Regions from separate parts of the Homo sapiens genome. Here region 2 is linked to region 1. Evidence: fine-mapped expression QTL. Tissue or cell type: stomach. Region 1 holds a variant in brackets; the other region holds the start of a gene. All regions are shown on one strand. Distances are between the middles of the regions.

Region 1 (4,336 bases):
GCGACAGAGCAAGACTCCATCTAAAAAAAAAAAAAAAAAAAATTGAAAGTGCAATAAATTGCAATAAGAAAGAAGTAAAACTTAACAGAAGACTCAATTTTATCTGTTTTTGTCCAACCTACAGAACAAATCCATTTAAAACTCCAAAGGCTCAACTAGCATTAAGGCTCACATGTAATAACCTTGTCACTGATAAGAACTTGTTATGTTAAGATTTAATCCATGTGTAATGTAAATATATGATCTTCAGCAGAACTCTGTCATGTACTTCATAACTATGAATATATAAGTGAAAGAAAAAACTAAAATAAAGATACATTTTGAAAGTGTGTTAAAAACAGTCTTTAATACAGATTCCATAGGCTCAGATTCTTGGCACTTAGAACAAATCTTTTCCTTGACAGCTCTAAAAATAAAAGGATTGACTAATCAAATTCACAACTTTTAAAAATTTAAATTACTTCAGAGGGAAGCTTTCTGAGCATATTTAAATAATTCATTTACAGATAAAGTAAATTTTAATGAAACAAGAACTTCAAAATTTTGTAAATGTACTCTGCATACATTCAGTACTTAAAACTTGCCTCTAGTTTGTCTGGCCTCCTTATCCAAAGTCAACTCTTGTTTGTTTGTGTTTTTTAAGAGCACTGGTCATTCAAACACTGCATCCAAAGGCAGATCCCGGTTTTATGTGGTTTATACAATTTAAAGAGCCCTCTCTAAGAATAAGAATAAAAAGGCACATGTCTATGAAAATGCATTCCTAGTGCCCCTCCCTGGAGCATCATTATCTTCATGGGACACCTGCTTCTCTCTGTCCCTTATTTTATAATCAAGGAAAACTAGTTTTCCTCTGCCTTGATTGTAGTTGTACCCTCTTTGAAGAATTAAGAATGCTTTCCTTTTCCAACAGAATTTAGTTTACTTTCCAGACTTTTCTTTTTCCCCAACAGAGGTTTCTTGGCCTTCTTTCAGCAGCCTACTGAACTCCTTTCCACTTTGTACTTTCAAGAACAAAGACAACAATTCACTTTTCCTCATAAAGATTTGTTCTTATGACTGCAGAGATTCCCTTCGTATCGCATCATCATTTTCTCCCAGTTTTATAAAATGAAGATCATAAGGGAAGAATAAATCAAATGTTTCTATTCATTCTTTCCCAAGGAGAAAAAAGTTCAGCTTTTTCTGAGATGATTACAAGGCGAGCAAATAGCCTTTCACTGTGTTAACATGTCAGGATCAAGAACTTTACTACCTTGTTAAAATACTGTTAGTAATCAGGATACAAAAATGGAACAGATTTATATTTCTTCTTGAATGGCTATAAATGGCAGTAGGCTATGCACAATAATTACTCAAATAATCTGAAACACAAAGGAGGGTATAAAATCAAGAGAATATAAAAACAAGTGCAACCAGATTACTGCTTGCAACTTGCCTTCAGACTCTAGCTGCAATATCATAAAAAAGGGAGATATAAACAACAAAGAATGGAAAGAAGTAAGAAAGGATTAGAAAAATACTGGCAAATATTGTTGATAATTCCTTTCATTTAAATACAAATTATGATTACATTTAAGCAAGAGAACCACATACAATACATTTTGAATACTCAAATCCATTAAAAATGAATATAAACTCTCTTTCTTTACCAAGCATTTTTTTTGTAAGACAGCTTTCATGGGAAGTCTGGCTACATATTTCCAATTACTTAGCATCTCACCTAGCAATAAGGAGATATACTCATTAATTTTAAATCGTTTATTCCAGACTAACAATGAGCTGGCATAC[T/G]GTTTGTGCTGGAAAGGTTGACATGGAAAGAGCTTTATTCAATATTTGTTTTTATTATTATCTTCATACCGTCTTACTAAATAGATTACTTATGAATATGGTAATGAATAATTTGGACTCATAGTTTGCTTTGTTAAACAAAGCATCAGCATCTGCCTCAGGGGAATCTCTTACTTGAGTCTTAGCTTAAAACATTCCTGCCACTTGGTGTTAGACACTAAGTTACCTCCAAGCCCCTGAAATGAAACCTCATCCAAAGCTTTGTCATTTTCTTGAGAGACAAAGACGCAGCCTTCTGAGAAATCAACTGTAAACAGTTGATCAAATTATTGCTACCTTGTAATACTACATCATGATTCATGATCTTAGGGCTTATGTTTTGAAGATAACATCTGAACTGATGTGTCAGCCCAAATTCATAAAATCCAGAAGAAAAAACATAATGTGTACCATCTACTTCCTAGGAAAAAATAAATAACTAAAAATAGAAATAAGTACAGCCTCTGTCACTCTAAAAATGCACATGAAAGCCCAAATGCAGATCCCACAGCATATGCATGGGAGCCATTTGGGACCATATGATGCAAAGAGACAGCGACCTCTCCCTGGAGTAACCCAATAGGAATAATAAACTAATTACTTATTTCAAACCAGAGGCCACTGAACATTCCTTCTTATTTCTTTTCCTCTCATTCCTTCTCCCCCAAAGAGAAAACAATTTTTAACACAGACTTTGTGCATGCAATGTGCTAGCCGTTAGAATAGTGTAACAAAAGAATTGAAAGACAGTATCTCAAGTCTCCTAATTGGGTGGGAGGGGCAGTAAGGAGGAAAGAAACAGGTAAATAAGTAAACGAATAACTACCAGTTTTCTGCATCACTTTTCCTTTAATGTACAAATTATAATAGTGCAAGTCATTATCCAATCTGTGTCTATTCAATTTTGTTGTTTATGATGTTGAGGAATCCCAGTAAGTTCTGATGCACTTCACAGTTTATTTCTGACTGCCACCGTTTGTCTTTTAGAGTGACAACCTGCCCTGGCTTCTATCCTGTGAGGAACTCATGGGATTCTCTCTGAAACACTTAACTTTCTACAGCCTGTTCCCTAATTTTCTTCACCCCCAAGCATGGATAGAGGTAAAACTAAAGGGTCTAAGAAGGCGTGGATCATATCTGGGGGATTGAAACTTATTATAACCTCAGAACCTAACACAGTGCCTGGCATACAGGAGAGGCATTATAAATACCTGTCGAATGGATGAATGAACATTTGAAAGAATTCATAAGCAAACACATGAAATATAAGATTTTTTTCTTCTCTTCTCCCCCAAGTCCTAGGCCCCTTCCTCCATATATGGACAGTCAATATGACTTTTTAAAATTTCTACAATGATACCTTCAATGATAGAATGAAAAAAAAAACTTTATATTTTGTTTCAGAAAACTCTCAAACCATTTTTTCTATGTGTTCACACCACGACAACTACAATCAACACAGAAGAAGACTTCTGTGACCAAATGTGTGGGAGGTTTTCCCCACACACTAAGCAATGGACACCAGCTGGGTGGCCTCCAATTTAAGTCCATCACTGTCTACCGGGAGATAGGCCAGATACCACAGGTTGAGGTATTAGTCCCCATGGCCACCTGCCTACACACACACCAGTCACAAGTCCAGGCCTCCAGAACTTCTGACTAACCAGTTTCAAGTTGGAGTTCTCATAACCCCATCTTTGGGGTTTGATTTGCTGAAATGGCTCACATAACTCAGGGAAACACATCTATTGGTTTATTATAAAAGATATTGCAAAGGCTACAGATGAAGAGATGTGTAGGGCAAGGTATGGAGGGAGGGGGGCAGAACTTCCATACCCTCCCTGGGCACACCACCTTCCAGGAACCTCCTTGTGGTCAGCTATCTGGAAGCTTCCTGAACCCAGTCGTCACTGGTTTTTATGGAAGCTTCATGACATCAGCATTCCTTCCACCAGGGTATAGGGCAGGACCCTCTCTGGGTCTTAAAACCTTCAATCAGAAAGGTGGGGAAGATTTGATTCCTGCCTTGAGGCAGGTGAAAGGAGGATAGGAGAAGGTCAGAGAAATTCTATTTCCTGAGGCCTTCCCCTGAAACCTAACACACCCAACTTTATAACAAAAGACTGTAACAAGGGTTATGAGAGTTATGAACCAGGAACTGTGCATGAAAATCAGTATATATAACACCACATTTTCTTACATTATTCTAATATTAAACATCTCAGTGGCCTCATATCTGTACAATTCAAAAGGCTCTCCAAAGCAGTCCTTCTCAAAATTAAGAGAGCACTCTCCTCCCCTCCTTTTTCTGCCCAGGTAAGACATGAAAATTCCATACCTTTTACTTTTATATGTAATACTTTTCCTCATATCCCTCTCTTTTGCTCATTGTTTATACTCTTATTTATTTTTGAACCTATCTCTATAATCTCCATACTCTGTAACACAGTAAATTGCAAGATGAGGTCTAGGCAAAATTATCCTCTGGGCTTTGGGAGATAAGAAT
Region 2 (4,336 bases), 250 kb after region 1:
TAGTTGTAACCACACCCATCTCCTCACTTCTCCCATTAACACTAACTAGACGGCATGTAAACTGGACATGCAGACTGTCTTGCTCTGTATTCCAGAGAGGGTTATATAGTGTATCAGGCACTCAATGTCAAGAACCCATACAGTAATCCATACATTAACATCATCTTACCAAACAGACAAATCACATTTCTCCCACTTCCATGCATTAAACATTCCTTATTTTTATATTTAAATAATTTTGTGTGTATATGCACGTGTTCAAAATATACCCAGCCATCGACATAGGAAAGAAATATGATTACCAAATAAAGTGTACCTTTGGCTGAGATAAAGCAGTGCTGGCTTTAAAGATTTGTTGTATTATCTTCTAAATTTCAGAAATCAGTCAAATATTCCAAATTTTATGTTTTTTTCTTTTACAGTATAATTAATTTTGTCAAACTAGTGGGCATTCCTATTTCAAGGATCAAAGTAATTGCTCAAAGCAAAGGCGTAACAATTTGTGCTTACCATCCCGACAAAGTTTTATTTCCCCTTTCCAACATGCTATGATTCATTCTATTTCTTCTTAGTTGTTCCTTTCTATAGCTTCAGTAGGAAAAGGCAACCAGATTTAGATTCCTTTGCCTTTTAACCTCACAGCATCCCTCCCACAAAAAGGAGGACTACATATTGTACTTTGTTCCATCATAAAGCATCGAGATGAATTATACTAACCTTACTGTATTCCAGGCATCTCCGAGTTCTTTGGAATACTGTTTTTCAAAATGATCCAACACAACTTTGCAAATCTGTTTTGCAAGCTTCCCCTCTGATTTTGCTTTCAGCTATGACGATAAGAAAAAGTTGCTGACACACAGTGATATTACAAATTTACTGAACGTCAACATTAGCAAGGTCTTTTTTTAAGACAAGAACACTTTTTTTGGATAATTACTAGTTCTTGAAATGGAAGCAATACCTTACATGTACCAAAACTGTACATTATCTAATTATGAAAAAGCAAGGTTTTTCCAAATAATTATTTTCCAAATGTGAAGCAAAGGTTAAAACAGAATCTACTGGGGCTGAAGAAACTGTCAAAAGGAACAAAATTAATTTTAAAAAGTCACTGTAGGGGCTAGGCAGGTGGCTCACACCTGTAATCCCAGCACTGTGGGAGGCAGAGGCGGGAGGATCACATGAGGTCTGGAGTTCAAGACCAGGTTGGCCAACACGGGAAACCCGTCTCTACTAAAAATACAAAAATTAGCCGAGAGTAGTGGTGGGCGCCTGTAACCCCACCTACTCAGGGGGCTGAGGTGGGAGAATCGCTTGAACTCAGGAGGTGGAGGTTGCAGTGAGCCGAGATCGCGCCACTGTACTCCAGCTGGCTCATGCTTTGCAGGGACGAGGCGAGAGGATCATTTCCCAGTTCAAGACCAGACTGGAAAACATATCAAGGACGTGTCTCTACAAAAAGTAAAAAAAAAAAAAAAATTAGCCAGGCGTAGTGGCCTGCTCCTGTAGTCCTAGCTACTAGGGAGGCTGAGGCTGGAGGATCGCTTGAACCCAGGAGTTCAAGGTTACAGTGAGCTATGATGGAGCAGCTGCATTCCAGATTGGGTGACAGAGCAAGAACTTGTATCTAAACAAAACTAAAAAGTCACCGGGGATGCTGACATCAAGAAAAATTGGTGAAAGGTATTTGAGAACTCTGTACTATCTTTGCAACGTTATTTTAAAGTGAAAAGTTAATTTAGGGAGAAAAGTCACTCCAATTTCATCGTGAACTTCCTTGCAATTGTTTCATTTATTCATCCAAGAAACGTGTATTCAATGCCTACTATGTAACAGACACTGTTCTAAGCTCCCGGGATACCGCTGTGACACAGAAAACAAATCTCAGCCCTCCAAGAGCTGGAGGGAGTGGGTACTAGAAGTCTGCGAGCTGGACGGAAGGGACTCAGCATTACAGCACTCAGCATTATTTCAGGGCTTGACAGTAAAGCCAAAGAAACGCTGATCTCGCGAGGGGACGAACAAAGGTGATGTTCCCCCATCCCAGCACCCTCCCTCGCCACCTCGGCCGCGTCCAGAAGCGTCTCATTCAGATAGAGGTACCCAGCCGGGCCCCAGGTCTCACCTGGGTCAGCATTGTCCCGCTGAGAGCTTTCAAACAACAGGTGTACGCGAATCAGTATCAAAAAGCCTCCAGGGAACTGAAAAAAACAGTCTGACTTCCGGGATTCGCGGGCATCCACTTTCATTCTCACGTTTCCTCTTCAATTTCTCGCGAGATACTGATTTGCTCGCGCTATAGAATTCTTGTCGAAGAGGCTTAGCTCCCGCGGGAGATTTCGTGCGCAGTTACTTCCGGTAGCTGGTAAAGGCTGATACTTCCCAGGACGCGGAGGTAACGGGCCAGGGCCAAAGCGACTTTCGCTACTTGGATTGGTCGGCGTAGCTTTGGGCGGCCGGACCTTAGAAAGTCACACATCTGCGCGCCTGTGCGGCCCCTGCTTCTGCGGATGCTGAGGTGGGAGGATCGCTTGGGCAGAAGTTTGAGGTTGCAGTGACCCGTGATCGCGCCACTGCACTGCAGCGTGGGCGACAGAGCGAGGCTTTGTCTCAAAAATAAATAAAAAGTCGCATATTGTGCTGAACAGTGTGTATATGCATGGGGCTCAATAAAGGAATGAGTTTTGGGGTTATGTTGTATGATGACTGATTTAAAATATTCTCAAAGCGAAGCTAGTTACTGACTTAATCTACCAAATCTAGTGACCCCTGTTAACCTAGACATTCAGTACCCAAGGATAAAAGGGTGGAATATAATGAAAAAGAAATTAAGTCATGCTTTTCCCCAGACCTGGCCCATGGGGATAATCTCTCCTTTTAATGGAGAGTGTTAAACTGAAGTAGGCATGTAAAGCGGTTACAACAGTGATTAGGAAACAGTAAATGCCCAAATGTTAGCTGCTATTATTTTCACTATTGTGATCATTGTGATTTTTGTCGCGTTGATACCAAATGCGTGAAGACCAAAAGGACCCTCCACTCTAGCCTCCCCAATTCACCTTTACAAGGGAGCAATGTTTAATGGTTCTCCAAGGAAGATGTTTATTACACCTATTTTGACACGAATAGAAGTTTATTTGCTCTTTTGGTGTCATGCTTCAGTAACTATCATTTGTAGCAGCAATCAGCAATTAGAAAAAACCGGTTTGATATGGTCCCTGATAGTTAATAATCATCATTTTGAGTTGTTCCTTGATGCTCATATCAATATACGTACATGCTATAGGTACAAGTCTTATATTCATGTAAAAACATGTCTTTCCTTCTAATCTGATTTGAAGCTTAATATATTTATTTATTTAAACAAGTTTCCAAGTCACCTAAAAAATGCATCTTATTAGAATTTAGATTTGGTACAAAAGACTATGATAATCAGGAATGAAATGATGCCATCTCTTGGATGCCGTCTGTTTAATGTTTGTGGAAAAGTCGGTCTAACCTTTCAGCCTCTGTATTTTTTATAATTTTATAAATTTATATTTTATAAATATTTTATAAATTTATACTTTATAAATATATTTTATATAATTTATTTTTCTATGTTCATTCCAGAATGTTGCAATTAATTAATACAGTGGTATTGTATTTGCAATGTAGGCACGTAAAAAAATTTGAAGAAGGGAATTTCGCGGCATTCTTGGCCTGGCTTCCTGGCGTAGCCAGCAAGTTCGGAGGTGTTAACCGCTGCTGTCATGTTTCTTTTGCTAAACTGCATCGTCGCTGTGTCCCAAAACATGGGCATCGGCAAGAACGGGGACCTGCCCAGGCCGCCGCTCAGGAATGAATTCAGGTATTTCCAGAGAATGACCACAACTTCTTCAGTAGAGGGTAAACAGAATCTGGTGATTATGGGTAGGAAGACCTGGTTCTCCATTCCTGAGAAGAATCGACCTTTAAAGGATAGAATTAATTTAGTTCTCAGCAGAGAACTCAAGGAACCTCCACAAGGAGCTCATTTTCTTGCCAGAAGTTTGGATGATGCCTTAAAACTTACTGAACGACCAGAATTAGCAAATAAAGTAGACATGATTTGGATAGTTGGTGGCAGTTCTGTTTATAAGGAAGCCATGAATCACCTAGGCCATCTTAAACTATTTGTGACAAGGATCATGCAGGACTTTGAAAGTGACACGTTTTTTTCAGAAATTGACTTGGAGAAATATAAACTTCTGCCTGAATACCCAGGTGTTCTCTCTGATGTCCAGGAGGGGAAACACATCAAGTACAAATTTGAAGTATGTGAGAAGGATGATTAATATGAAGGTGTTTTCTGGTT

What was found. PIP is the estimated chance that this variant, and not a neighbour inherited with it, causes the effect.
Region 2: DHFR2 starts here. The variant in region 1 is fine-mapped to the expression of DHFR2 in stomach (GTEx, PIP 0.93).

The regions. Positions count from the first base shown.
Region 1 is chr3:94,308,558-94,312,893 of GRCh38, reverse strand. No RefSeq gene overlaps it. Among named protein-coding and RNA genes, the nearest start is that of NSUN3, 250 kb to the right of the region's middle. The variant T/G (reference allele first, on the strand shown) is at 1,792.
Region 2 is chr3:94,060,928-94,065,263 of GRCh38, reverse strand. DHFR2 (dihydrofolate reductase 2) reads left to right here and starts at 2,348. Exons shown (of 2, transcript NM_176815.5): 1 at 2,348-2,518; 2 at 3,658-4,336. The coding sequence starts at 3,753. The coding sequence ends at 4,316. NSUN3 (NOP2/Sun RNA methyltransferase 3) reads right to left here and starts at 2,203. Exons shown (of 6, transcript NM_022072.5): 1 at 2,126-2,203; 2 at 718-827. The coding sequence starts at 2,137. RefSeq lists an enhancer at 2,070-2,309.